4 linked regions of the Homo sapiens genome follow. The protein of the gene in region 4 interacts with the protein of the main gene of each other region in a biochemical or structural test. Each region holds a gene or a part of one and is shown on either strand. Other genes may lie near its edges. The genes, in order: PDE6G, ITSN1, GRB2 and DNM2.

Region 1 (7,533 bases), on a different chromosome or scaffold from region 4:
CAGCTACTCAGGAGGCTGATGTGGCAGGATTGCTTGAGCCTGAGGAGGTCAAGGCTGCAGTGAGTTTGTTTGTTCTCAAAAAACAAACAAAAAACAGTTTATAGTCTTTATACACAGCCGCTTTGGGAAAGCTCCATTCCTTAACTTGTGCTTGTCTTGGTCTTCCTGTGTGTAGTTACTGCTGTAGAAAAGTATTAATAGCTTCATTTTTTTGTTTTGAGACAGAGTCTCTGTCGCCCAGGCTAGAGAGCAATGGCACAATCTCTGCTCACTGCAACCTCCACTTACCGAGTTCAAAAAATTCTCCTGCCTCAGCCTCCCCAGTAGCTAGGATTAAGGCACCTGCCACCACGCCTGGCTAATTTTTTGTATTTTTAGTAGAGACAGGGTTTCGCCATGTTGGCCAAGCTGGTGTCGAACACCTGGCCTCAGCTGATCCACCTGCCTCAGCCTCCCAAAGTGCTGGATTACAGGTGTGAGCCACCGTGCCCAGCCTAATAGTCTCATTTTGTTTCTTTTCTTTTTTTCTTTTCTTTTTTTGAGATGAAGTTTCGCTCTTGTTGCCCAGGCTGAAGTGCAATGGCACGATCTTGGCTCACTGCAACCTCTGCCTGCTGGGTTCAATCGATTCTCCTGCCTCAGCCTCCTGAGTAGCTGGGATTACAAGCATGCACCACCACGCCCGGCTAATTTTGTATTTTTGTAGAGACAGGTCTTCTCCATGTTGGTCAGGCTGGTCTCCAACTCCTGACCTCAGGTGATCCGCCCACCTTGGCCTCCCAAAGTTCTGGGATTACAGACGTGAGCCAATGTGCCCGGCCTAATAGTTTCATTTCATGTAAACATAAGTAACTTCCAAGCAATTACGTAGAGGGCTAAAATTGTACCTGGTATTTAAGTCATCAGAACCGGTTCTGCAAGTGACTGTGTTTTGCATTATTGTGAAGATATGAAAATGTGGTGAACGACAATTTAAAGAGTGTTCCACATCACCGTTTAATTTCTTTTTTATTATTTATTTATTTTTGAGATGAAGTCTTCCTCTGTCGCCCAGGTTGGAGTGCAGTGGCGCCATCTCAGCTCACTGCAACCTCCGCCTCCCGGGTTTAAATGATTCTCCTGCCGCAGCCTCCCTGGCAGCTGGGACTACAGGCGCCCGCCACCACGCCCCACTAATTTTTTTAGTTTTAGTAGAGATGGGGTTTCACTATATTGCCCAGGCCGGTCTCAAACTCCTGACCTCAGGTGGTCCAGCCACCTCGTCCTCCAAAAGTACAGGGATGAGCCACCATGCCTGGCCTATTTTACTATTTCAGAGTTGAGGTCTCGCTCTGTCACCCAGGTTAAAGTGCAATGGTACAATAATAGCTCTCTGCAGCCTTGAATTCCTGCAGCCACCGATATTTCACTTCTGCATTCCAGCCTAGGTGACAGAGCCAGATCCTGTCTCTCAAAAAAAAAAAAAAAAAAAAAAGATATGGATTGCAATCTTGTTTCCTCTGGGGCTGAGTGAGGGATTGAGCCATGTGGGACAAGAGGTTTTTGACTTGTTCCATTTATTGCAGCATAACTTGAATCCAGCCGTCCTTTCTGGACTAGTGATTTTTGCCAGTCTCATGGCTAGAGTTTTACAATCAAGGCTATAGGGTCTTTGTTTAGGTCTATTTGGAGCTTTATGTATTTTCATGTGATTGTCTTTGTATATTGTCTGTGATACATGATACCAAAAAAGGAGTACTCATACATTTTATTTTATTTTACTATTTATATTTTTATTATTATTTTTTGAGACAGAGTCTCACTGTTGCCCAGGCTGGAGTGCAGTGGTGCAATCTCAGCTCACTGCAACCTCCACCTCCTGGGTTCAAGCGATTCTCCTGCCTCAGCCTCCTGAGTAACTGGGACTACAGGTGCATGCCACCACGCCCAGCTAATTTTTGTATTTTTAGTAGAGACAGGGTTTCACCATGTTGGCCAGGCTGGTCTTGAACTCCTGATCTCAAGTAATCCACCTGCCTCGGCCTCCCAAAGTGCTGAGATTACAGGCGTGAGCCACCATGCCCGTCCAGGTTTTATTTTTAATTTTTCAAAATTTTCATATTTCTTCAGAGATAGGGTCTCTCTCTGTCCCCCAGGCTGGAGTGGTTTGACCATGGCTCACTGCAGCCTCGAGCTCCTAGGCTCAAGGGATCCTCCTGCCTCAGCCTCCCAAGTAGCTGGGTCTATAGAAGTGAGCCACTGTGGCCAGGCACGGTGGCTCACACCTGTAATCCCAGCACTTCGGGAGGCCAAAGTGGGCAGATCACGAGGTCAGGAGATTGAGACCATCCTGGCTAACATGGTGAAACCCTGTCTCTACTAAAAATATTAAAAATTAGCTGGGCGTGGTGGTGGGAGCCTGTAATCCCAGCTACTCAGGAGGCCGAGGCAGGAGAATCACTTGAACTCAGGAGGCAGAGGTTGCAGTGAGCCGAGATCAGGCCACTGCACTCCAGCCTGGGCAACAGAGCGAGACTCAGTCTCAAAAATGAAATAATAAAATAAGAAGTGAGCCACTGCACCTAGCTAATTTTTTCTATTTTTTGTAGAGATGGGGGGGTCTCACTATGTTGTCCAGGCTGGTCTTGAACTCCTGGCCTCAAGTGATCCTCCTGCCTCAGCCTCCCAAAGCGCTGTTTGAGAGCCACTGCTCCCGGCCGAGTTATGGGTTTTTATTTATTTATTTATTTATTTATTTATTCATTTGAAACAGAATCTCGCTCTGTCGCCCAGGCTCTAGTGCGGTGGCGCGATCTCGGCTCACTGCAAGCTCCGCCTCCCGGGTTCACGCCATTCTCCTGCCTCAGCCTCCCAAGTAGCTGGGATTACAGGTACATGCCACCACGCCCGGCTAATTTTTTTGTATTTTTAGTAGAGTCGGGGTTTCACCATGTTAGCAAGGATGGTCTCGATCTCCTGACCTTGTGATCCACCTGCCTCAGCCTCCCAAAGTGCTGGGATTACAGGCATGAGCCACCACACCAGGCCTGAGTTATGGGTTTTTAAAGGTGCAGAGGCAGAGGTCACAGGCAAGTCATAAATCAGTACATGGAGGTTGTACACTGGTTTTGCCATAAATAGCAAGGAGATCTTGAAGCCAGGGACCACGGGTCATAGGTGGATTCAAAGGTTTTCTGATTTGGTGCAGAAGCGAATCTTTGTCTAAAACTTTGGGATCCGCAGGAAAGAATGTTAGCTCTGGGTTGTGGGCATGGCCTCCTCCAGGCCCCTCAGGATGGGCATAGCCTCCTCCAGGCCCCTCAGGAAGAAATTTAGGTAAGAGAAGGGTGGTCAGAGGCCAGTCCTCAGCTCCCGCTCATGTGAGGTCTGTGTGCCAGCACGCCCCTTTGGTGGGAGTCCCTGTTTCTGGAAAACAACTGAGGAGCACCTGCTAAGATGGCATGGTTTGCTTCTGTGGAGACTCTCGGGACTCTGGCTTCCATCTGTTGTTCTAAGCTCCTGTGACCTTCTTGTGACCTTCCTGTGGATCGGCTGCTCATTTCCTTCTCTGGGCTGGCTGGGGGCCTGGCTTGCCCTTGAAGGAACTCAACATTGTCCTTGCTTCTGTGCTTGGGAAGACCCACAGGCCCCTAAGGGCGGGGGGGGGTCCTTGTTTGGTTTCAGGAGCAGCAGGTGCAAAGGCCCTGGGGTGGGAGGGGTGAGATGTGAGGCCACAGCAGCGGGTGAGGGCCAGGCTGCAGAGGGTTTTGGGGACCATGAAGGTGGGCCCTTCAGAGATCAGGCAGGGTCAGGAAAGGCAGTAGGGAGGCCCAAGACAGCAGACACTGTGGTTGCTTCCATCTGGAAGATGGGCAGCTGCAGGAGCCTGGCTGTTCAGGGTCACACTTCTCTCCCTGTCCCGGCCCCATCTGCTGGGTGTCCTTCCTTGGAGCCCTTGACAGCACCTGAGCCCCTCCTCTCCATCCCCTGAACCTTGGTGGTTGTGCCCCCCCTCGGGGCCCAACAATCTCATTAGGGTGGCACTGAGACGCCTAATCAGCTCATGAAGCAGCGAGATAAAGGCCGGGGCTGGCACCCTGCGGAGGGAGGCCCAGCACTCACAGCACAGCCCCCTGAGACCCGCCCTGCACTTGGTGAGTAGTGGCCAACCCCGCTGTCTTTCCTGGCAGCCACTTCCCCCAGTGAGTCAGTGGGGGTCTGCTCATCACCCAAGGGGCAGAGGGAGCTGACAGGCTTTTACCACCGTGGCTGAGGTCTGGGTCTGCAGATGCCTACCCGCCACCCTGTTATTCAGAGGGGACTCCCAGCCAACCTCCTCCTCTGCTCCCCCATGGTAACCAGTGCTTCCACCATCCCCAGGCCAGTGATGGTCTGGGAACCTCAGGCCACGTGGGCTCAGCTGACCTGAGTGGACGCCAGTCACAGGCTGGGTCGGGCCAGGGCAGCGCAGGCAGCGGTTTCCACATGGATGGCATCTGATGGTTGGAGCTCCATCAGGGCCCAGAGCTGCCCAGGACAGCCCATGTCCCAGGGCTGGAGAAGCAGCTGGACGGGGCCTGTGCTATCTAGGATATGAGGATTGGGTGCCATGGGATCTGAGCAGCTGGGACCACCGGGCTCCTGAGTGCTGGTTTTGCACAGGCTGGTGCTGGTCCCAGTCCCGGGGACAGAGGCTGAACCTTAGTGAGGGAAGGTGCCATGGCAGGGTCCACCCCAATCCCAGGTGCCCAGCACCCCTTGCAGAGCCCGCGTCCCCAAAATGGGCCACCTGCCCTTGCTTTCTGATCACTCTCACGCCTGAAGCTCGGCAAACAGCTGGTAGTAGCCCAGGGCTGGAGTCAGGAATCCCAGCCAAAAAGACCAGGGGCAGGAAAGGGGACCCCAAGAGGTGGTCCCTGGGGCATCCAGTGCGGGCAAGCAGCCCCTCCTGTCTGTGTCATGTGCCTCCTTCCAGAACTTTCCGGCAGCATGTGCAGCTGACAGCAGCTCGATGGGAGATTAGGAATTCCCCTCTGCTGTTAATAGGCTTAGGGGAAGCTGAACTGCCCTTGGCCCAGGTCACTGGGGCTTAGGGCATCTGGGGAGAGGCTGTAGGGAGAGGAGGAGGAGAGGCCACCCTGTGCAGCAGTGCAGGGACACTGATCTCGTCCAGAGCGGCCGAGGCCCTTCAGCCACGCCACGCCACGCCAGGCGGGTGACCCTGCTCCCCGAGCTGACTCCAGACACAGAGAGGGCCTGGTGATTCCCCCAGCAGGGGGAACACATGCCCGGCACCCTCCGTCCCCAAGCCCCAGCTTGTCCCTCTATGAAGTGGGGTTGGGGAACGCAGGGCTTCACAGCTCAGCACCAAGTCTCTGAGACAGGCCCCTTTCCCAGGGGCGCCGTGCCTGGGGACCCTGCCCCCCATTTTGTGGGTCATTCTCCATCAGCACTGCGGGGTGCCCGTCATGGTGCTGAGGGGCTCAGGGATGCCTCCGTGAGTGGGTGAAGGGAACTGACAGCACCCCAACTGCAAAGCACAGACAAGAGGCAGAAAGCAATAAACCCATCAATAAGAATCAGAGGGGTTGGCCGGGCGCAGTGGCTCACGCCTGTAATCCCAGCACTTTGGGAGGCCAAGGTGGGTGGATCACGAGGTCAGGAGATCGAGACCATCCTGGCTAACATGGTGAAACTCCATCTCTACTAAAAAATACAAAAAAAAAAATAAATTAGCCGGGCGTGGTGTCGGGCGCCTGTAGTCCCAGCTACTGGGGAGGCTGAGGCAGGAGAATGACGTGAACCCAGGAGGTGGAGCTTGCAGTGAGCTGAGATCGTGCCACTGCACTCTAGCCTGGGCAACAGAGCGAGACTCCGTCTAAAAAAAAAAAAAAGGTGAGATTCCAGCCACAGCTCTGGAATAGGATCCTAGGGGGCTACTTTGGCAGGTATTAAAACTTTTTTAGGCCGGGCGCGGTGGCTCACGCCTGTAATCCCTGCACTTTGGGAGGCCGAGGCGGGTGGATCACAAGGTCAGGAGTTTGAGACCAGCCTGACCAAGATGGTGAAACCCCATCTGTACTAAAAACACAAAGAAAAATTAGCTGGGTGTGGTGGCGCATGCCTGTAATCTGAGCTACTCCGGAGGCTGAGGCAGGAGAATTACTTGAACCCGGGAGGCAGAAGTTGCAGTGAGCCAAGATCTCGCCACTGCACTCCAACCTGGGTGACAGAGCAAGACTCTGTCTCAAAAAAAAAAAAAAAAAAGAATCAGAGGGCAACAGCCCGGGAGACGCCCACCAGCCTGGAATCAGGGCTAACTCGACGCGTGATGAGAAGCGGCAAATCAGAACCTAAGGACACAGTGGCTGCAGGGCGGGGGTTCAGGGGAGACCTCCCTGAGCGGGAACTTGAGATGGAGGCAGCCCACTAACCATCAGGAAGGGCAGCTCAGAGGCAGGCTCCTCTGCTGGGCCTGGCAGGCCCATTCCCAGCAGGAGCCACAGAGGACTTTCATCAGAGTAGCAGCTGGGCCGGGTGCGGTGGCTCACGCCTGTAATACCAGCACTTTGGGAGGCTGAGGCGGGTGGATCATGAGGTCAGGAGTTCGAGACAACCTCGTCAACATGGTGAAACCCCGTCTCTACTAAAAATGCAAAAATGCAAAGATTAGCCGGGCATGGTGGCAGACGCCGGTAATCCCAGCTGCTGGGGAGGCTGAGGCAGGAGAATCACTTGAACCCGGGAGGCGGAGGTTGCAGTGAGCCGAGATAGTGCCACTGCACTCCAGCCCAGGCAACAAGAGCAAAACTCTGTCTCAAAAACAAAACAAAACAAAAAAAAACCCAGAGTAGCAGTTAAATGCCGACGGGAGTCACGCTTCCCTGGGGTGGGGAACGCAGGGGAAGGGGCAGGAAGTTGTCAGTGGTCACCCACAGGGAGGTGGTGAGGACTCCAGGCTCAGGACCTGCCACAGGTTGGGAGGCTAGGTTTGCTGTGGATTGTGGGCCGGGGCGAGGGAGGCCAGGACAGGGGGGAGTCCGGAGCTGTGTGTGGCCAGCGTTGCAGGGGGGCATCCACTAGGCAAGGGGAATGGGAGCGTGCGGGTGGACCCAAGCAAAGCTGGCAGGCTGGTTACCCCAGGGCGGATTGCAGGGGCTGCTGTCTGGATGACGCTGGAGCTGGCGGGGCTGGGTCTCAGCCCCTCCACCGGTGGGTTGAGACCCCCACAAGGGTTGGAAGCAGGAGGGCTGACTGGGACCCGGGCCTGGTCTGCCCCCAGACCGCAGCAGGAGGGAGTCCAGGAGCCAAGGTTGCCGCGGTGTCTCCGTCAGCCTCACCATGAACCTGGAACCGCCCAAGGCTGAGTTCCGGTCAGCCACCAGGGTGGCCGGGGGACCTGTCACCCCCAGGAAAGGGCCCCCTAAATTTAAGCAGCGACAGACCAGGCAGTTCAAGAGCAAGCCCCCAAAGAAAGGCGTTCAAGGGTAAGCAGAGCTGGGGGATGGGGCCTCTGAAAGGGAGGAGGCGGTCCTGAGGCTGCACAGGAAGGGG
Region 2 (7,622 bases), on a different chromosome or scaffold from region 4:
CTGAAACACACGCACGAGTGTGCACACACGCGCTGACTTGCAGTCTCGTTTACTAGAACACATTGGCATAAGTGTGCTCACACACTCACGGTTTACCGGAGCACACAGACCCCCAGCCTCGCTTTGTAATGCCTGTGTGTTACTTTCCAGCCTATTTTCCTAAATGAGGTTCTAGTAAAATTACCCACCGACCCTTCTGGAGACGAGCCCATCTTCCACATCTCCCACATTGACCGCGTCTATACTCTCCGAGCAGAAAGCATAAATGAAAGGTGAGACCTGCCGCCTCCCCAGCATGGGCCCCAGGGCTCCACGGCTCTAGGACACACAAGGGGCGGGTGATTAATCAGGTGCCAATGTTTCCCAAGTGGCAATGCCATCACCCCTAGCTGGGAGTGGGGATGGGGCTATTACTTTTTTCTACAGCCTCTCAAAAATCTGTCACATGGCATGCCCTTTCCAAAATAACATGGATTCAAACTAATTTTGCTTGAGTTTTTTTTTTTTTTTTTTTTTTTAAGGCAGAGTCTCACTCTGTCACCCAGGCTGGAGTGCAGTAGTGCAGTCACAGCTCACTGCAGCCTTAACCTCCTGGGCTCAGGTAATCCTCCCACCCTAGCCTCCCAGGTATGTGGGACTACAGGCATGTGCTACCAAGCCTGGCTAATTCTTTATATTTTTTTGTAGAGATGGGTTCTTGCCATGTTGCCCAGGCTGGTCTTAAACTCCTGGGCTCAAGGGATCCACCCGCCTTGGCCTCCCAGAATGCCAGAATTCTGGGATTACAGGGGTGAGCCACTGCACCTGGCATTGTTGTTGTTGTTGTTGTTGTTTTATTAAGAAATGTTTCGCATTCTTTGAGGTAAACAGAGCATCTCAGGTTTCCCCTGGCTTCCCAGGTGGCAGAAACCAATAGGAAAGTAATTTCGGGGTTAATAGGACCACGCAAACCCAAACCTCTCCTCACCTTGGCTGACTTAAATGGGCATTCTGGAACCTAGGGCTGTGGGTATTTTGCTTCAATCTGTCTTCAAGACACTGCCCTGGAGCCAAATGAAATAGATCATTTTCTGAAGGGTGAACTTGACACAAGGCCAGCATCATTCCAAAGAGCATTTGCACCAAGCAAGAAAATTGGCTAAAGCTTTTGTGCATATGGTTCTCAGAAAAAATGAAGGAGAAAACCGCGGCCACAAATGCCTTCCCCCAAGGCGTTTTGGTCTTTCGTGTGAAGTGGTTCCCAATCTGGGAAGTGGTTTTTGTTCTTTCTTTGCGTGATTTCATAAGCGAGATCCTTCTGGCTTTGTTGGATTAGGCAAATATGTGCTGCTCTTCGGTAAGGAAGGAAGAGGAGTCGTGTCCCGATGTTGCCTCCAAGACAGCATCTATCACAGATTTTCTTCCCCGGGGACATCATCGCAGGTCTTGAGGACATCCATGGAAATGGCCCTCATGCCTTTCTTATCGATGGCAGGAATAAGTATTAGCGTCACGTGACATAAAATCAGATTTTCTTTCCCGAGCCTTTGTTGTTAAAATCAAATGAACAAAGAAACAGAGTCCTGGCAACAGTGTTTGAACAGACCTGAAGCCTTTTTCCTGAGTTTCTGTTTGGCAACTTTCTGTCTTTTTCTGTCCAAGGACTGCCTGGGTGCAGAAAATCAAAGCTGCTTCTGAACTCTACATAGAGACTGAGAAAAAGAAGCGCGAGAAAGCGTACCTGGGTAATGCATGGCCCCGCGGGGTGTCCTGCACAGCTGGGCAGGAGGGAGGGCCATTTGGCTGGGCTGAAAATCCTCAGAATAGAAGAATCCCCTGGACCTAGAGGAGGGGCATGGAATGAGATGGAAGTGAGCTTGGGGTGGGATGCAGATGGGGATGGAGGGCAAATTCCAGGAGCAAGGAAGCAAGTGTTTAAGGAGAGGGAAGAATTACTTTTGAGTCGGGAGAGGTACATGAAATGCATTGTGAGGCTCACAGAGATGGGAAAGGTGTGGCACGTTCAAATGAAGCATTTTGTGTTTTTCCTGCCGTCATAGTCCGTTCCCAAAGGGCAACAGGCATTGGAAGGTTGATGGTGAACGTGGTTGAAGGCATCGAGTTGAAACCCTGTCGGTCACATGGTAAGGCTGTGAGGCGCCCCCGGCTCCTGCTTTGGGGTTGGGAGTAGGGTCCGGGTTCCCCACACCCCCACCTGGCTCTAGATCAAATGTGCTATTTCCATACTCCCTGATCTCCTTCCAGAATTGGTTTAACTAGCACTTGTTAAAAACCTGGAGGTTTTGTGTTTTTTTTTCCATCCTTTCTACCATTCTGCTTCTCCGAGGGATCTGAGTGGCTGCATTCACAGTGGATGTGACACAAGATCAGGCCAAAGTAACGAGACAGGAAGGGCCTAGTTTCAAAGCCCACTCAATTAAGTATTTGTTTTTAGTTTAAGGATGAAGCTGACTTCTGGGAGTTTCCACCCGGATTCTCCACCGAATGACACTTATTAAGCATAGCAGTTATTAAGAGTGGGGAGCGGCCGGGCATGGTGGCTCACACCTGTAATCCCAGTGCTTTGGGAGGCCAAAGCAGGTGGATCACCTGAGGTCAGGAGTTTGAGACCAGCCTGGCCAACATGGTGAAAGCCCGTCTTTACTAAAAATATAAAAAATTAGCCAGGCATGGGGGCAGCCACCTGTAATACCAGCTATTCATTCAGGAGACTGAGGCAGGAGAATCACTTGAGCTCAGGAGGTGGAGGTTGCAATGAGCTGAGATCATACCACTGCACTGCAGCCTGGGCGACAGAGCAAGAATCCATCTAAAAAAAAAAAAAAAAAAGAGTGGAGATCAAAATGAGGTGTGAGTTCCACCTGGCGAAGGCTTTTGTTCCCTCCAGGAAAGAGCAACCCGTACTGTGAGGTGACCATGGGTTCCCAGTGCCACATCACCAAGACGATCCAGGACACTCTGAACCCCAAGTGGAATTCCAACTGCCAGTTCTTCATCCGAGACCTGGAGCAGGAAGTCCTCTGCATCACTGTGTTCGAGAGGGACCAGTTCTCACCAGATGGTGAGTGGAACGCGGCCCTGTGGTTATTCCTCCTTCCCTGGCACTCGTTTGCGTGGGTTAATGTTTTCTTACCTGGGGACTTGGTGCCAGGATTCCTTCGGTTTCCCTCCTGAGAGATGAGGCTGGCTGGCACAAGACGAGGCTCTGTCTCCCCTGGAGGAGTCTTCTGGAGGCGTCTCATTGCATGTGGACAGAGCATGCTTGGTCTAGAATTGTGCCAGCTGCCCTGGGCAAACACGTCCATCTTCTGCTTTCCAAAGCAGGTGACTGTGGAGAGGGGTGTGTTTAAGAGCCTCAGCATAGTTCTTCAGTCCTTGGCAAAAAGCTGTGCTGGCAATGGATGAAACTGGCCAATGGAACAAGGATGTTAGCCCACAACAGGAGCCGCAGAATGGGCCAGGTCCCTTTGGGTGGCATTTTTGTACCACTTATTAAGTAGGCAAAGGGATGCAGTCATGTTGAATGAATCATTTCTTCAGCCAGCCTTCTGTTTCTGCTTGGGCCTGGAAAAGAATAGTCTCAGCCCAATGATTCCAAGAAACTACCTGTCTCTCCCTCAACCCAATAAAAATCACCGGTGGGCATGGTGCTGCAGGCCTGGAATCCCAACACTTTGGGAGGCTGAGGCAGGAGGATCGCTTAAGCCCAGGAGTCTAAGACCAGCCTGGGCAACATAGTGGGACCTTGTCTCTACAAAAAAATACAAAACTTAGCCAGGCATGGTGGCATGCACCTGTAGTTCCAGCTACTCGGGAGGCTGAGGCAGGAGGATTGCTTGAGCCTGGGAGGTCGAGGCTGCAGTGAGCCATGATGGTACCACTATATTCCAGCCTGGGCAACAGAGCAAGATCCTGTCTCCAAAAAAAAAAAAATCACAGAGTAAGTTAAAAGATTATGGTCTCAACTTAATTATAACCGAAGAAGTGAGGGTCAAATGCTAGCATTATCTGTACAAGGTTTAAATGGCTCCATATGGCCTTCATCTTTTAGTACTTTTTATATGAATTATCTCATTGTGAGTTAGGTACTCGTTGTGGTAGCTGGTTAAATGTTTGAGTGTGACTGGAACAGTTTGGCTCCCAAGTCTGGGCTCTTAACTACTATGTGTACTGTCAACTTCTAATTCTTTTTTCTTTTTATTTTTTTTATTTATTTATCTTTTTTCTTGTTGTTCTCGCTCTGTCACTCAGGCTGGAGCACAGTGGTGCAATCACAGCTCACTGCAGCCTCCACCTCCCAGGCTCAAGCAATCCTCCTGCCTCAGCCTCCTAAGTAGCAGGGATGACAGGCATGAACCACCATGCTAGGCTAATTTTTAAAAATTTTTTGTAGAGACAGGGTCTCACTCTATTGCCCAGGCTGGTGTCAAACTCCTGGACTCAAGTGATCCTCCTGCCTCGGCCTCCCAAAGTGCTGGGATTACAGACGCGAGCCACTGTGCCCGGCCACCTTCTAATTCTGAGAGATAAAGGTTGGGGTTGGGTTTTTTTTTTTATTTAAGTAATGAAATACCATGACACATTGGCAACTCCGCTGGGGAGCGAGTTGGAAATCCTAGTGTTGGTTTACATCAGAGCCCAGAGAAGAAGGGAGAGCATAACAGTTCATCAGGGGGTCCCCAATATGCCAGACATGTGCCTCGAAGAGAGGGAATGGTCCCTCTTAGGAGGGTCTGTTTGTTCTCTTTTCAGATTTTTTGGGTCGGACGGAGATCCGTGTGGCGGACATCAAGAAAGACCAGGGCTCCAAAGGTCCAGTTACGAAGTGTCTTCTGCTGCACGAAGTCCCCACGGGAGAGATTGTGGTCCGCTTGGACCTGCAGTTGTTTGATGAGCCGTAGGCAGCGGGCTCAGGGTGTGCTCAGCAGGGTCCCAGCCCACGGCCACACATGCTGTCTGGAAATTGTATTCCTTTTCTAAGAAACCACCATTTGGTATTCAGTCACAGGGATATGGGATGGCAAAGACAGGCCCCTCAAAGCTCCTAGGAATCATTCTCGACAATCCTCCCTGCCCCGAAACAATTTCCTGTTTCATGAAACAAAGCTGTGTTTTCCTTTGTCCTCACTACAGGTCTCATTATGGCTTCTAGGGTCGCTGAAATCCCATAGCCCTCAACAGGGTGCAGCTGGGAGTCTAGCCCCTTCCCGGGCTTGAGGGATGGGTCTGGTTACTATAAAATAGATTTATAAATGCAATGTCTATATTTTTGGAGAACTCATGTAACCCTCCTGTTTCTTACATCCACCAGTCCCCAAGTAGACTTCTTGGCCTACAATGCCCAGTCCTTGGTGTGAGTTTAGAAACAATTATGACGGTCCTGTCATTGCTTCAGAATCCCATCTCTCCTGCAGGGAAATGCTGCCTAGAGCTGATCACTCGGTGAGACGGTCTGATCAGGCCCTGGCTTAGCTCTTTGAAGAGCTGGTCTATGGAAGTTTCCAGCATGTGCACCGTTATAGCCGTTCCTTCCCCCTCTAGGCCTTGTATTAATATATGTCAATGAAAACACACTGGTGTATTGTTGCGTGGATTCAGTTCTGATTCCCAGCATGCTTAGAATATGGTCACAGAAAGTCATTATCTAGAAAGTCACCCCTCTGCTGGATCAGATCACTACAGGTCACTGGAAAGGCAACTTTACAATGTTGGGTCACTGGGTCTCGGTTGGCAGCCATGTTGGAAAAATCTCTTTTGGCTCGGAGGCCTGTGATATTTCATAGCAGCAGTCGTTGCTGGTGACCTGTTCTGTGCTTGAATGTGCTGAATCCTGATTGTTGTAGGACATTTCAACAGCTCTTTTTGGTACGTTCCCCAAAAAGCCATGTCCTAGATCCCCAAGGCGTGAAAAGGAAAAATATCAAGCTGGAGGTTGGGAAAGAAAATGAAGGCAGTCCATTATGTGGTGGGTGAAAGACCCTAGGAGGATGCAAGCCCCGCACATCCCGGGGCAAAGACCTAAGACACTTTTCCACCCTCCACCACCCCAACCTCACATAATATGCTTGTTGCAAGAGTCAGGACTTTATGACTATGTGCCAAGCTGTTTGGTTTGAGTTCTTTAATTTTTTTTTCCCTTAAATGCCAGGAGATCATCTGGTTAGTTAGATAGTAACTTGATTTGCTAATGAAAAGTGGGGGCCGTGTTTTGTTTGCATGTTAATATTCTCATAATCCTAGTTTGTTGTGGTCATGAAATGTCCTTTGCATGTTCTGTTGGTACTGGAGTCTAGCTTTCCTGTACTAGATGGTGTTCTCTTTGATTGTAGGTCCTTAGACTTTAATTAGGGTTATCAAAGTGCTTTCTAAATGATAGCATCAGCGTTGTGGCAGAGTACCTCCTTTGCTGGGAACTGAATGTGTAGTGTTATCATTTCCCATGAGAGCCCGGTCATACTTCAAGCAATTTTTTTAAAAGTGTGTGTTGGAAAGGACAACAAAGTTTACATTTCATACTTTTAAGAAATACTTTATTATTTATTTATTGAAGATAGTGTAGAATTTTGTATCAAGAACAACAGACATAAGTATTTTTTGAAACAAGCAAATATACCCTGTAGTTAGAAACTTTCAACTGAACATGTTAGAGACCAAGTTTAACTTCAGGCATGCATTTGTTTACCATTTCCCAGCAGAAAACATGGTTAAAATACTTTAAGTTTATATTTTTTGATGTTGTTAAGAAACTTTTAAATTAAATCTATAAATAGACATGCAACTCATGCTTTCCTATTTCTATAACCAACACCGTTTGTTTAGTGTATTTATGAAAGATATGCTACCATGGTAGAAAGAAAAGTATTCAATGTGTAAATGGGGTAGTGTGGGTCACCATTCCGATCTCTTTTTGTTTTCTGTCCTGTCTTTTCTTCATTGACTTTATTTGCGTGTTAATGTTGGACATCATTGTTCATGTAGGTAGCGTATGGTATGCACAATGACAAACAATCGTTTTAGGTCCCAGGTCACCCACTCATAGTGTCCTATTATTGGAATTAATGTAGCATGAGAAAGCAATATGTGACTCTTTTTCCTCAAGTGACTCTGTTGAGCATCCTTGAGATGCTCCTGCCATGTAGCAAGTTCTGGATTAGTGTCCTTGTATTTACTGGTGTAATTTGTAATGTAACCAATTGTCCGTATGGAGGAGTCGGGCTGGCCCTCGGACCCAGCTGTGATTCATGAGTTGTGTCACAGGGATTGAGAAACATGGGTGATGCATGGAGTCTCAAACCATTGGGCCTCTCTGTTCCTTCACCTCTACCTTCTTGACCACCTGGGCTATATTTCATAGAAATTAAATGCTCCTTGCCAACAAGGAGTCTGTCTCCTAGCTCTTTGTTTTCTAAATATAGGAGTTCTCTAGGCCACTGCATCCCGGCATCCTGATCCCAGCCTTTTAGACACCCCTGCAAGCGTTCCTCTGCTCTGAGCCACACTGCTAGCTTCTCCTGCACACTCTGATCTCCTTTAGCCCAAGAAGGGGCTGTGCTGGTCATAGGGTTATGCTGTAACCCTCAGTCTTCCCTGAGAACTGAACTATCCTGGGACCTCTTGGGCTG
Region 3 (7,622 bases), on a different chromosome or scaffold from region 4:
CCTAAAAGATAGCATAATTGTCTTGTAACTATCTTTTTAAAGGGAAAAGGAAATGATTGGGTTTTTTTGTTGTCTTATTTCTTTTCAGGTTTTGAACGAAGAATGTGATCAGAACTGGTACAAGGCAGAGCTTAATGGAAAAGACGGCTTCATTCCCAAGAACTACATAGAAATGAAACCACATCCGTAAGTTAAGCTCCATTAGTCTTGGAAGGGTTGGACCCACCTCCTTGTTTCAAACACTCTTTTTAAAATTGAGATCACTGGGATGGATGTCATACTTTTTATTCACGTTTCTAGGGAATTAACAAAGGATATTGATTGTGCATGTTAATAGTATATAATAATATATCATAGTCAATAATATTATATGTTTTAGATTGATAATAACTGTCAGTGATCTTCAAAAATAAAACGATAGTTGGTGCAGGTCCGTAATTCTTTTTCTGTTAAATATGTCTTAGAGCCAGATGTGTTTTATAATTCTGCATTTTTTTTGAGTTTTAGAAAAGGTACTTAGATGATTTTGTGTTTATATGTGCTAATGCTGTGGGACGGTATCTTAATATCTTTGTATCCCCAGAGTACGGTGCTTGGCATCTAATAGTTCTCAATAAATGTTTATCCCTCCATCTTAGTGTTCCTACTTACAAGAGAACAAAATATGCTGTCCTCCAGGCTGCTGGGAGCAGTGAATATTTTTAATTTTTTTTCAGAAGCTACCCTTGTCACGATTTTATTAATAACGCAACATAGTGGACCCCTGAGAGCCCCTGCAGACCACTGTCCTCCCGTTCTCACCCACCCCTCATTCACAGGCCCTGCTCCTAGCACAGAAGCAGTTGCTGGCTTGCCTTACAAGTGTGTCAGGGGAGCTGAGGCTTTCCACGCTCAGACTAGAATGCCCTTGGACATTGTCCACTTGCTTTCACAGCAGCTGGTGGCGGAGACTTTCAGGTGGCTTGTCGCATCTTGAGTGGGAGGGGCCTGTTGGATCACAGCACATCCTCCCCAGGTCCCATATAAGCCACATAATTTGTGTACTTCTGTTTCCTTCAGTCGTCCTCAAAAGAAACTGTAGGTCAAGGGTTGGCTAAACTTTTTCTGTGAAGAGCCAGATAGCAAGTAATTTCGACTTTGTGGGCTGCATACAATCCTGTCAAATATTCCTTGTAAAAATTTTCTTTTAACAATCGAGTAGAAATTTAAAAAACAGTCTTAGGTTGTGGGCAGATTTGGGCAGAAGGCCATTATTGTTTGCTGGCTCCTTCATTAGATCCAAACACAACATCGACTTCAGTTCCCTTTTGTTTTCATATTTTCAGATTGAAAGGGAATTCAACAGAACATCATACTACACTTCTTATATGACATGCCTGTGGCTCGAAATTCTTATTTTTCTTCAGTGTTTCGGGTGACACAGGCATTTAAATCTGACTGTTGAGGAAAGATAGGAAAGGCTACCTTCCTTGGAAAGTTGTAGTTACTGCCAGGCTGACTGGGACAGTCACTCCCTTGCCTTGACCTTTTGTCCCCACTATGAAGAACTTTAGAAGAATTGATGGAGAAGCACCCAGCACAGGCTCAGCTGTGTTGTTATTTGCAGACTCTGCCCAAAGGGTGGGCAGTGCTCAGCCACTCTGAGCTCTGAAAAGGCAACTAGCAACTTAAAAACCCTTATTTATTCAGGTCTACCATATTGCTAACAAAGACCATGCTTGTGCCTATGTAGGTGTTTGGCCTTGCAGACGTAGTTGCTGTTGTATAGGGCTGCTCTGTGGCTGGATGTTCATGAGTATAGGGTCAGGGTCAGTACCAGGCCTTCTCCTCCACATCCTACCACCTCCTGTTTTTTTGTTTGTTTGTTTGTTTGTTTGTGGGGGTGGGGAGCAGGGGTTATGGAGGAAGAGGGAAGCATAAAATGTAGCACCATGTCAGCTAATGCAGCATTCAAGTTAACAAATTAGACTACAAAATGATTGTTGGCATTAGTGCTGCAGCATGAGTTGTATATGCTTGAGGGGTGGATCCAAATATGTGCTTTTCACACTAAATGCATATGGATGGGAGCCTACGGGATGTAGTAAAGAATTATATTGGAAAATTAGCCTTCTCCCCTCACCCCCTTAGCTCTCGCCCTTGCTATTTCTGTTGTATAAGCCCACCTTTTTTTTTTTTGTTTTTTGTTTGTTGTTGTTCTTGTTGTTTTTATGAGACGGAATCCTGCTCTGTTGCCCAGGCTGGAGTGCAGTGGTGCTATCTCAGCTCACTGCAACCTCCGCCTGCTGGGTTCAAGCGATTCTTGTGCCTCAGCCTGCCGAGTAGCTGGGACTACAGGCGCGTGCCTCCACTCCCGTCGAATTGTTGTATTTTTAGTAGAGATGGGGTTTCACTGTGTTGGCCAAGCTGATCTCGAGCTCTTGGCCTAAAGTGCTGGGATTACAGGTGTAAGCCACCGCACCCTGCCAAAGCCCATCTTTTGTTTGTTTGTTTGTTTGTTTGTTTGAGATGGAGTCTCGCTCTGTCGCCAGGCTAGAGTGCTGTGGCGCGATCTCGGCTCACTGCAACCCCCAACTCCCTGGTTCAAGGGATTCTCCTGCCTCCACCTCCTGAGTAGCTGGGATTACAGGCATGTGCCACCATGCCTGGCTAATTTTTGTATTTTTAGTAGAGATGGGGTTTCACTGTGTTGGTCAGGATGGTCTCAATCTCCTGACCTCCTGATCCGCCCGCCTCGGCCTCCCAAAGTGCTGGGATTACAGGTGTGAGCCACCACACCCGGCCCAAAGCCCATCTTTTTAAAGACTTTCAAAACATTTGCCTGTTAGAGCTTGCAGCAAGCCAAGATCACGCCACTGCACTCCAGCCTATTCAACAAAGCAAGACTCTGTCTCAAAAAATAAAAAATAAAAAAAATTCACCCGTAAGCATGTAGTCACATGTACATATCATCATTTTAAAAAGTCAAATTTATAAATGATATAAAATGCTATAGAAATGTAGAATGGTGGTATTTCAGTGTTTTAGTAGTGACAGCTATTCACAGGGTCTTGCTCTGTCATCCAGGTTGGGCTCAAGTTATCCTCCCACCTTAGTCTCCTAAGTTGCTGCGTCTACAGCTGTGCACCACTATGCCTGGCTAATTTTTTATTTTTCGTAGAGACAGGGTCTCACTGTGTTGCCCGGGCTGGTCTTGATCTACTGGGCTTAAGCAATCCTCCCACCTTAGCCTCCCAAAGTGCTGGAATTAACAGGCGTGAGCAACTGCACCTGGTGCCAGATTTTTTATTTCTTGATCTGGGTGCTTATAACAGAGTTGTGGTTTTTTTGGTTTTTGGTTTTAATTCCAGTTAGAGTACTTTTTAAACATTATAATTTGTACTTCACTACAATTTATTTTTTTTAATTGAAAATAAAATTGCGTTAATTTTAAGCTGGGGGCAAGAAAACACAGCAGCCATGTCTATGTGACACCAGACAGAAAGGTCTGGAAACCTAAGTGTTAGAACCGCCAACACGTGCTGCCTCTGGGGAGTTTGAGGGAAGCATCTTACTTTTTATGTTTGCTTCATGTACATCTAGGCTATTTCAGTTTATATTCATTATTTTATACCTACAAATGGGAAAAAACCTCCCTAGTGGAGAGATCTTGGGGGCCTAGGAGGAAAGAGAGCCTTGCTGATTGAGAATCTTCACCCTCACCATTGCTATTGGAAGTGGCAGTGGTGGGGAGTGTGGGGCAGTGTGGGGAGAGCCAGCCGAGGCCATGTGTGGATTTTCACTGCTGTACCCAGTCAGATGCATGCTGCATACACTTATATTAGAAACCCAGGGCCCCCCGATATGAGAAGGTTTAAATACCGTTGATTGGGGCCCCCCGATTGAGAAGGTCTCAATACCGTTAAGTGTCCTTATTTATTTATTTATTTATTTATTTATTTATTTTTTGAAAGCGAGTCTCGCTTTGTCGCCCAGGCTAGAGTGCAGTGGCGCGATCTCGGCTCACTGCAAGCTCCGCCTCCCAGGTTCACTCCATTCTCCTGCCTCAGCCTCCTGAGTAACTGGGACTACAGGCACCTGCCACCACGCCTGGCTAATTTTTTGTATTTTTAGTAAAGACAGGGTTTCACCGTGTTAGCCAGGTTGGTCTCGATCTCCTGACTTTGTGACCCGCCCGCCTCGGCCTCCCAAAGTGCTGGGATTACAGGCGTGAGCCACCACACCCGGCCTATTTAATTTTTTTGAGATGGAGTTTCACTCTTGTTGCCCAGGCTGGAGTGCAATGGCACGATCTCGGCTCACCGCAACCTCTGCCTCCCGGAGATTCAAGCGATTCTCCTGCCTCAGCCTCCCGAGTAGCTGGGATTACAGGCATGCGCCACCGCGCCTTGCTAATTTTGTATTTTTAGTAGAGATGGAGTTTCTCCATGTTGGCCAGGCTGGTCTCGAACTCCTGACCTCAGATGATCCGCCCACCTCGGCCTCCCAAAGTGCTGCGATTACAGGCATTGAGCCACCGCACCCAGCCTCCTTTTTTATTTTATTTATTTATATATTTTTTTGAGACAGAGTCTCACTCTTTCGCCCAGGCTGGAGTGCGGTGGCACAGTCTCGGCTCACTACAACCTCTGCCTCCCAGGTTCAAGTGATTCTCCTGCCTCAGCCTCCCGAGTAGCTGGGATTACAGGTGCCCACCACTGTGCCCATCTAATTTTTGTATTTTTGGTAGAGAGTGGGTTTCACCACGTTGGCCAGGCTGGTCTCAAACTCCTGACCTCAAGTGATTCACCCCACCTCAGCCTCCCAAAGTGCTGCAATTACAGGCATGAGGTACCGGGCCCAGCCTGTCCTTTTATATTTAGAGAGCATTCTATTCTAGTGATATGTGATTTCTCTTGTGTGGCCTGATTTCCAGGCACTGCAGGCCCTAGCCTTGAGTTATTTGTAGAAGCAGGAGGATCTATTGTCCCAGCTCCTCAGCATCCTGGCAGTAGAGTATGCAAAATGAGAAAGACTCCAAGCAGGTAGATGTCAGACTATTCAGAGTTACTAAGAGTCCCTAGAGGCTGACACACACACACAAGGACAAAGTTACTAAGGGCAGCTTCTAAGTGTATCCTTCCTAGCAGATCACATCTTTCTGTTTGAATTTGAGTATAGTATATTATTTTAGGTACATCTTCCAATATGGTTGCTTATAAGTAAGATATGTAAATTAGCCGGGCGTGGTGGCTCGCGACTTTAATCCCAGCACTTTGGGAGGCTGAGGCGGGCAGATCTCGAGGTCGGGAGTTCAAGACCAGCCTGGCCAATATGGTGAAACCCCGTCTCTATTAAAAATACAAAAATTAGCTGGGCGTGGTGGTGGCCGCCTGTAATCCCAGCTACTAGGGAAGCTGAGGCAGGAGAATTGCTTGAACCCAGGAGGCGAAGGTTGCAGTGAGCCGAGATCGTGCCACTGCACTCCAGCCTTGATGACAGAGTGAGACTCTATCTAAAAAAAAAAGGGCCGGGCGTAGTGGCTCATGCCTGTAATCCCAGCACTTTGGGAGGCCAAGGCAGGCGGATCAACAAGGTCAGGAGATCGAGACCATCCTGGCTAACACGGTGAAACCCCATCTTTACTAAAAATACAAAATATTAGCCGGGCATGGTGGCGGGCGCCTATGTATAGTCCCAGCTGCTCAGCTACTTGGGAGGCTGAGGCAGGAGAATGGCGTGAACCCGGGAGGCAGAGCTTGCAGTGAGCGAGATCGTGCCACTGCACTCCAGCCTGGGTGACAGAGCTAGACTCCTCAAAAAAAAAAAAAAAGAAAAGATATGTAAGTTAGATTTACAACTTTAATGGACTATTTGGTCCATTAAAAGGACTTTTGATATTATAATTAGCATATTAAATGAATGCCAGTTTCCATGTTTATAGGTCTTTATTTGCTATAACTTTTGCTTTTAAAAATGATAACTAAAGACAATTTTGAGAAGAGAACATGGTTTTCACAGTTTCTTCTTCCTAATTATAGTTTTCATTTGAAATAGTGAGGCAGCTTGACTTGAAGCTCTTGTAGAAGTGTTCCTCTCCTCTTCCTCTTGATAAGCCACAGCCAGTTGCTTCACAGTTTTTCATGAATTTAGCCACTTTTTCTTCTGGCCAAGGTGAATCAGCAATTGGGAGCAGAAGAGTCTGCAACTTGCCTCAAAAATCTGAATTTTGCAGCTAGCTGCTGAGCATATGGTAAATTACAATATTCCTGGTGGCTTCTGAAAGCTGAACTCTGAGCAGTGGCCCCAGAGGCAGGCCTTGAGAGGAATGCTGACCTTAGTTACTGGTAGAGGCACCCTCATACTATCTGAACCTTTTGCCTTTGGGCTGTTAGCAAAAGTAACCCTGCCTCCAGCTCCTGGCCGTCCAGGTTTCCTCCCCACTTTCCCTTAGTCCCACTGTGGTGAAGCTGTGATCTTATCACATGGCTGCAGGAAGGGGCCAGTCTCTCCTTGGCAGTTCATCCCGTACACCAAGCCCAAAGGCCTGAGCTTTTCCCCAGGCGCCTTTGTCATGAGTCAGTAGGGAGTCCAGTGGGCTTTGGCCTGGGGGGCCCATTTTCAAATGTCTCCCTCTATAGAAAGAGTGACCCACGGTTAGTGCCTTGGTGAGTCGCTTTCTGGGAAATGGAGTAGGCTAAAGACCTTTGAAGGTCCATCTCTGGGGACCCAACCCAGTGTCGATCTTGGGCACTGTGAGGCTGGAGGATGAGGAGGGAGGCCCCTTCCTCTGGCAAGGAGTGTTGTGTTACTCACATTTTGAAGGCTGGATATCCCGTTTCTTTGTGGGGAAGCAGATGTTGACCAGCTTGCCTTCCTTCCTTAGGTGGTTTTTTGGCAAAATCCCCAGAGCCAAGGCAGAAGAAATGCTTAGCAAACAGCGGCACGATGGGGCCTTTCTTATCCGAGAGAGTGAGAGCGCTCCTGGGGACTTCTCCCTCTCTGTCAAGTAAGTATTTCCTGCTGCAGTTGCCTGGAATCCTGTCTCTGACTGATCCAAATTGTGAAGCCGTTGGTCAGGTGCCTGGCTACACACAAAATGGTGGAGGCTTAGCCTAAACAGTTTCTTCATTTCACATTAAAATCCTAATTTCTGGCTCCTCTCAAAATGAGTTCTAGAAGCACTGGATGTAGATTCCCATGTGGACACAGCCTTCAGGAGGTGAGCAGCAGCTCCCTGCAGCCAGCTGGAGCCTGCCAGTTTTCCCTAGTGCCCAGCACTCCTGAGCTTCTGCCCTCCAAGGGATTCCCGCAGCTCTCTCTAATGGGATAGTGGAGCGCCTGTCGGCTGCCTTGGCTTGCCTTGCTCAGGTCCACTGACTTAAATCAACCAGCCCCATCCTAGGCCCTCACAGTCACTTAAGAAGGCTGCTGCAGGGGATGTGGGGCTTGCATTTCCCCGGTGGAAAGTTCAGGTGTGAAAGGGAGCGGGTAAGCAGGGAATGGAGAAGACAGGAAGTTCTGCCGCCATGGAGAGTGTGGAGAATAGAAACCAGCACTTGAAGATTCTAAACAATTCACACCTCAGCTGTGAAGTCGGGATTTTGAATTAAATTGTTATTTCCATGTTTTTTACTTTCAGT
Region 4 (6,947 bases):
CCAGGACAGACCGGCCCCCGAGGGGGCAGCCAGACAGGTGGGAGGGGCCTCCCACGAAGCTCAGAAGAAAGGTCGTGCGGGAGCCGATGGAGGTGGTCGCCTGGCACAAGAGAAAAATCAGAAAGCAAAGTTTAACTGAGCCCCAGTTGGGCCACGAGGCTTGGGCTTCCCCACGAGGTGAGAGAAGCAGGGCCTGAGGGTAGGAAGGGGGTGGAGCGCTGGGGTCCCCGCTTCACCAGGCAGCAGCCAGGCCTGTGCACGTGGGGGTGTGCAGGGGGTCAGAGAATATCTGCTCCCACTCCTCACATGCTAAGGAAAGTAAAAGCTCTCCCCTGTATCGAGTGGCTTCCTCTGAAAGGTGACACCCCCGAAAGCAGAGCCCTCAGGGAGATGGGAGGCACTTATGAGTGCAGGGACTTGGGCATCCTTATGGGAGGCCTGATGGAGGTGGCACCCATGTCCCCAGCCTGAACACTAACACAAGAGGCCCACACAGCAGCCACCAGCAGCGTCTTCCCTTTATTTTAGTTTATTAATAGAATACAGAGTGCAGGCACTTACAGTGGTCAAACTGAGCGAGGAGTGGGTGAGGTCTCCTCAGAGAGAGGCCGCCCTGGGCCCACCCATCAGGGAGGCATGGGCGGGAGCTGAGAGGCCCCCAAGACCCCCCGCCACCACCACCCACATAGCCCAAGCCCAGCCACCCTGGGGGACCCAGGAGGAGGAGGAGGAGAGGAATAGGGCAAGGCCGGCCCGGGCCAACGGCTCCGGGCCTAGCAAAGGCACCTCTGGCAGCCGAGGCTGGGCCAGGCTCAGGCTGTGTGGTTAATATGGCCGGGAAGGACTATGTACACCTCAGGCCTGCCAGCTGGGCACTACCGAGCCCACTGGGCCAGGCTTGCCGCTGGGGAGCTCCTGCTAATGGGAAGTTGATATACCCCTGCACCCCAGCAAGGCCTGGGGATGTAGGCGCCCTTGGTGCCCGCACTTATAGAAGGCCTGCCCTACATGGGCTTTCCCAGCCCAAGAAGACCTTGGTAGAGTCCCCCCCAGGCTGGACCCCTCATTCAGGATGGTGTCAAGGGTTCTGGTCCCCCCTCTGCCACCCTGAGACTCCATCCCCCAAAGTGCAACACCCCAGCGCCCCCTGCCTGGAGCTCCAGGGCCCCTTTGCGCAGTGCGGTGTCCAGCCAGGCACAGGGGCCGGCCCTGGACCGGGGCCAGCGTTAAGGAAGAGGCCAGGGCTGCCCACTGGGAGCCTGGTCCCAGCATAGGGGCGGCGGAGGGCCCCAGACCACTGAAGCTCCTGCGCCGCGGGTGCGTGAGGCCCCCCCGAGAGCACGCCCCCCTCGAGGCCTAGTCGAGCAGGGATGGCTCGGCTGGGCGGATAATGGTGGGCCGGCTGGGCGCAGCAGGGGGTCTTCTGCTGCAAAGAGAATAAAGACAGGTGGGGAGGGGGAGACGGCAGTGAGGCCGGGAGCAAGAGGCAGGCCTGGGTTGAGGACCCAGCCCCCACCCACACACCACCCCAGGGTGTTCCCAGGCTGACCTCCGCAAGCCACCAGGGTGTCGGGCAGGAGTGCCAAACCTAGGCATCAACTCGCCTGCTGTTTGACCCTCAGTGAGCCCCCTGCCCTCCCTGGGCCTCAGCTTCCCCACCGGAGAAGTGGGGAGAATAAAGCCTGGCCCACGGTAGGTTGAGGCAGGCAGGAGCAGGAAGGAGAAGAAGGTAAACAGTGGGAGGAGGTGCCCAGTGTGAGGGTTCCCCAGCTGCCTGGTGGCACACCCCAGTAGGCAGAGGGCAAGCTGGGAGCCCCGGAGTCACCAGGGCTCCGCTACTCTGTGACACTGAACAAGCCTCTTGGCCTCTCTGGGCCTGTTTCCTCGCAAGCCAAATAGGGATGAGGACGATTCCTCCACTCCAGCAGCTGGGCACGTAGTGAGAGCTCACTGGGAGGAAGTGAGACAGGAGGAGAGACCCCAGGGTGCAGGCAGTTGGGGTGGAGGGCAGGGGGTTGGCCTTACCTGGGCACTCCTGGGGGAATCCCTGGGGGGATCCGAACTGGCCGAGATGGGATCTGAGGCGGGGCTGGGAAGAGGTCACTGTTGGCAAACACGCTCTGGGGTCCAGGCCGGGATGGGATTGGGGGCGCCGAGAAGGAGGCTGCTGCCCCCACGGGAACAGGAATCAGGGGGGGCCCTGGAGTGGGGCCCCTCACTGCTGGGGGCCGGCCAGGGGGGTGTATGCTGGACACCGGTCGGCGCTGTGGAGTGGGGCTGTGAGGAAGGAGAGGGTGTGAGCTACAGATACAGATGGAGTAGGAGCCCCCGCCATGCCACTGTGGCTGCCAGAACCTGAGGTGGGGGCTGGCTATGGGGACAGCGCAGGCGCAGTGGGATCCTCCCACCCCAACCTGAGCGCCAGTCCCACCTTCCCTTGCCCTCGGCCCCCTCAGGCACTTCCCACTCACAGGGCCCCCTCAGGCCTTGGGCCTGGGATCCACCCTCACAGCCAAAGACACTTCCAGAGTCCTCCAGATCAAGCCCTAATATCTCTAGGGGCCGTGGAACCTGCAAGCCCTGTCCAGACATCCAGATTCCCTCCTGGGCCTCAGTCCCTGCCACCTGCAGGCCTGGGTGCGATATCCTCCCCTTAAGGAACTCCATGGCTCCCCCAGGGCTCTGCAAGGCAGCCCCCTCTGAGGTTCCCTGCCCGACGGCCTCAATGGACAACTCAGGGGCGGCAGCAGCTCTGGCCACGCCTTGCGTTTGCCCCTCCAGAGCCTCCCATCTGCCCTTCTCTGTGCTCCAGGAGGCTCATCTCTCTCCTGTGGCTGCTGCCCCTCCAGCCTCTTACCCCAGCTTCCATTTGGGCTGTGCCAATGGAAGGCACCAGCAGAGGGCAGGCGGGGTATTTATTCACAGGGTCCTGCCCTAGAGCTGTAGGGCTGGCTCGCCCCCATACCCCTTCTCTCCCTCCTCCGGCCTCAGCAGGGCAGCAGCTCCCACAGTGCCCAGCCCTGGGTGCCACCCTTGGGCTGTGTCCTGTTTCCTGCCAGGACCCTGCAGGACACACAGGGAGGGCAGGAACCTGCAGGCCGAATGCTTGAGGGTAGGGGAACCAGGCTTCCGGACCTGTGGCTGCTGGCGCTCTGGAGCCAGGTGTCATCGACAGGCGGGGGTACAGGCGTGGACACAGTGCTGGTGCTGATGTCACCGATGATGTTGAGCGCCTCCTTGAGGGCATGGTACATGCGCAGCATGTCGTCCCGCCGCTGTGCCTGGTCAGCCGACTCCTCCATGAGGCTGCTCTGGTCTGCCGAGGAGTATAGGTAGGCCAGCAGCTCGTGGTGGATGAAGGCCTTCGTCTGCGGGCAGGGGTTGGGGAGGGTCAGGCTTGTGTATCACCCCAACCCAGAACCCACAGTGACTGCTGGAAAAACATCTCTCACAGGGCGGGGCCACCCCCAGACTTTTTTGAAAAAGAGTCTTGCTCTGTCACCCAGGCTGGAGTACAGTGGCTCAATTTCAGCTCACTGCAACCTCCGCCTCCCGGGTTCAAGTAATTATCCTGCCTCAGCCTCCCAAGTAGCTAGGACGACAGGCACGTTGACACCATGCTTGGCTAAGTTTTGTAATTTTTTTAGAGATAGGGTTCCACCATGTGGCCCAGGCTGGTTATGAGATTCTTATTCAACTTATTTCTAGTATCTTGCCTCTTCCATTGATGTCTTTTCTCCTGTTTTAGCTTATTTATTTATTTCCTTAACCTTGGCAGAATAATCCTGTTATATCTTTTTTGTTTTTGCTTTTTTTTTTTTGAGACAGTCTCACTGTCGCCCAGGTTGGAGTGCAGTGGTGCAATCTCAGCTCACTGCAACCTCCGCCTCCCGGGTTTATGCCATTCTCCTGCCTCAGTCTCCCAAGTAGCTGGGACTACAGGCGCCTGCCACCACGCCCAGCTTATTTTTTGTATTTTTAGTAGAGACAGGGTTTCACCCTGTTAGCCAGGATGGTCTCGATCTCCTGACCTTATGATCCGCCTGCCTCAGCCTCCCAAAGTGCTGGGATTACAGGCGTGAGCCACCGCGCCCAGCCAATCCTGTTATATCTTTATTTTTTTGTGACAGAGTCTCACTCTGTCACCCAGGCTGCAGTGCAATCTTGGCTCACTGCAACCTGCGTCTCCTGGGTCCAAGCAATTCTTGTGCCTCAACCTCCCAAGTAGCTGGGACTACAGGCGTGCCCCCCAACCCCCGGCTAATTTTTGTATTTTTAGCAGAGATGGGGTTTCACCATATTGGCCAGGCTGGTCTTTAACTCCTGACCTCAGGTGATCCACCCGCCTTGGCCTCCCAAAGTGCTGGGATTACAGGCGTGAGTGAGCCACTGCGCCCGGCTAATCCTGTTACATCTTCCACCTGGCTTCTGTTCAAACACTACTAGTTTCTGTTCATGAATTTTATACATTGTCCTTTCTGGAACCTCCTACTGGATACAGAAGTTTTTCAGTTACTTTTTTTTTTCTTTTTTTTTGAGACAGAGTCTCCCTCTGTCACCAGGCTGGAGTACAGTGGCATGATCTCCGCTCATTGCAAACTCCACCTCCTAGGTTCAAGTGATTCTCCTGCCTCAGCCTCCAGAGTAGCTGGGACTACAGACGCGTGCCACCACGCCCAGCTAATTTTTGTATTTTTAGTAGAGGGGGGTTTCAGCATGTTGGCCAGGATGGTCTCAGTCTCTTGACCTCGTGATGTGCCCGCCTCAGCCTCCCAAAGTGCTGGGATTACAGGCATGAGCCACCACACCTGGCCGTCACAACTTTTTTTTTTTTTAGATAGGGTCTCACTCCTATCACTCAGGCTGGAATGCAGTGGAGCGATCTTTGCTCACCGCAGCCTCGATCTCCTGGGCTCAAGTGATCTTCCTGCCTCAGCTTCCCGAGTAGCTGGGCCGACAGATTTATTATTTTCTTAAATAATAAAATATTTTTATTTTATAAGAGTCTATTAAAAATGGATAATTATGTCCCATCTTTGGCTGCTATAAAACATCATGGAAAACAATAAGCATGTATAAGCTCACTTTGCACGTGGGCAATTGTCTCTCTTAGAGAAGTTCCTAAAAGTAAACTTGCAGGGTCAAAGGATATATGCATTTTAAATTTCATAGCAGAAGAACCGTATATGTCTCCGATCCTATCGGTATATGAGGAAACATACCAGGACACCATGAAACTGTGAACACTGATCACTACTGAGAATGGGAGCAACAGGGTGGGAGGGCATGGCACGTGGGAGGTGTGTGTGTGTTTTAAATAGGGATGGGGTCTCACTATGTTGTCCAGGCTGGTCTTGAACTCCTGGGATCGAGTGATCCTCCTGCCAAGCCTCCCAAAGTGCTGGGAGTACAGATGTGAGCCACCATGCCCAGCCACACCCTGTGTGGGAGTTTTACTTAGATCCGCAGGTTTCTGTGGTTGACATTCATATACAAAACCCAAGACACTTTTTTTTTGAAAGAGGTTCCTGCTCCATCACCCAGGCTGGAGAGCAGTGGCGTAATCATGGCTCACTGCAGCCTCAACCTCCTGGGCTCAAGTGATGCTCTTACCTCGGTCTTCTGAGTAGCTGGGACTACAGGCATTTGCCACCACGCCCAGCTAATTTTTAAATTTTTTGTAGAGACTGGGGTATGGCTATGTTGCCCAGGCTGGTCTTCAGCTCCTGGGCTCAAGTGATCCTCCCTCCTCAGCCTCCCAAAGTGCTGGGATTACAGGCATGAGCCACTGCTCCGGCCCCAAAGCTGGTTTATAAAGCTTCCTGAGTGGCTAGTGCCATGCCAAAGGCCTGATACACAAGTGCCCTGAGCCCTCTAGCAGCCTGAGCTGGAGATACTATCAGTACAGCTGCATTTCACTGAAGAGGAGCCCAGAGCCCTGAGAGTCTCCAGGGAACCCGGGGCCAGGCGGGTGACGCCCATGAGGAAGAGGCTGGGCCCCAGATCATTAGGACACAGCGGCTGCCCAACACAACCCAAGGGTATGGTTGCAACCAGGGTAAACGTGGGTTTGAATCCCACTTCCCACTTTCCTAAGGAACTTGGGGCAGGTTACTTGATCTCTCTGGCCTTGTTTTCTGTCTGTGAAATGGGGAAGATGGCCGTTCTCCCTCCTGCAGTTATTCTGATGCCAGCCTAAGTTAATTCAGAGAAGGCGCACACCTGCAGTGTTCACTCCAGTTAGTGGACTTGATGGGACTATGGACCCAGTGTGGCTCGGAAACCCTAGGGTTTCCCAAAGAGGATGGCCGTGCAGATTCTGGTGTTCAAAGGGTGGTGATTCATTCAAATTTGTTGTTGCTGTTGTTGGACACAAGGTCTTGCTCTGTCGCCCAGGCTGGAGTGCAGTGGCATGATCATAGCTCACTGCAGCCTCAACCTCCTGGGCTCAAGTGATCCTCCTGCCTCAGCCTCCCAAAGTGCTAAGACTACAAACAGGTATGGCCTAGGGTGCCTGGCCTCCTTCTCATTTTTTTTTTTTTTTTTTTTTGAGATGGAGTCTCGCTCTGTCAACCAGGCTGGAGTGCAGTGGCACGATCTTGGCTCACTGCCATCTCCATCTCCCAGGTTCAAGTAATTGTCCTGCCTCAGCTTCCCGGGTAGCTGGATTACAGGCACCCGCCACCATGCCCGGCTACTTTTTGTATTTTTCTCTCTCTCTCTCTCTCTTTTCTTGAGACGGAGTCTCACTCTGTCGCCCAGGCTGGAGTGCAGTGGTGCACTCTAGGCTTACCACAACCTCTGCCTCTTGGGTTCAAGCGATTCCCCTGCCTCAGCCTCCTGAGTAGCTGGGATTACAGGCGTGAGCTACCGTGCCCGGCTAATTTTTGTATATTTAGTAGAGATGGGGTTTCACCATGTTGGTCAGTCTAGTCTCGAACTCCTTA

The links.
Region 1: the proteins of DNM2 (region 4) and PDE6G form a complex in vitro, tested with the Homo sapiens proteins (one study listed by BioGRID).
Region 2: the proteins of DNM2 (region 4) and ITSN1 form a complex in vitro, tested with the Homo sapiens proteins (2 studies listed by BioGRID and IntAct, with this or other methods).
Region 3: the proteins of DNM2 (region 4) and GRB2 form a complex in vitro, tested with the Homo sapiens proteins (3 studies listed by BioGRID and IntAct, with this or other methods).

What each region holds. Positions count from the first base shown.
Region 1 is NC_000017.11:81,653,093-81,660,625, reverse strand, and holds the start of PDE6G (retinal rod rhodopsin-sensitive cGMP 3',5'-cyclic phosphodiesterase subunit gamma), read left to right. Parts: upstream 1-4,083; 5' UTR 4,084-4,133; intron 4,134-6,899; exon of another isoform or gene 6,900-6,968; intron 6,969-7,261; 5' UTR 7,262-7,320; coding exon 7,321-7,466; intron 7,467-7,533.
Region 2 is NC_000021.9:33,883,400-33,891,021, forward strand, and holds part of ITSN1 (intersectin-1), read left to right. Parts: intron 1-150; coding exon 151-272; intron 273-1,641; coding exon 1,642-1,724; intron 1,725-2,039; coding exon 2,040-2,123; intron 2,124-2,887; coding exon 2,888-3,061; intron 3,062-4,752; coding exon 4,753-4,901; 3' UTR 4,902-7,622. UniProt on the Homo sapiens protein: Adapter protein that provides a link between the endocytic membrane traffic and the actin assembly machinery. Acts as a guanine nucleotide exchange factor (GEF) for CDC42, and thereby stimulates actin nucleation mediated by WASL and the ARP2/3 complex.
Region 3 is NC_000017.11:75,325,264-75,332,885, reverse strand, and holds part of GRB2 (growth factor receptor-bound protein 2), read left to right. Parts: intron 1-88; coding exon 89-186; intron 187-6,865; coding exon 6,866-6,988; intron 6,989-7,622. UniProt on the Homo sapiens protein: Non-enzymatic adapter protein that plays a pivotal role in precisely regulated signaling cascades from cell surface receptors to cellular responses, including signaling transduction and gene expression.
Region 4 is NC_000019.10:10,825,457-10,832,403, reverse strand, and holds the end of DNM2 (dynamin-2), read right to left. Parts: intron 3,432-6,947; exon of another isoform or gene 3,369-3,431; coding exon 3,136-3,368; intron 2,278-3,135; coding exon 2,026-2,277; intron 1,427-2,025; coding exon 1,357-1,426; 3' UTR 501-1,356; downstream 1-500. UniProt on the Homo sapiens protein: Catalyzes the hydrolysis of GTP and utilizes this energy to mediate vesicle scission at plasma membrane during endocytosis and filament remodeling at many actin structures during organization of the actin cytoskeleton.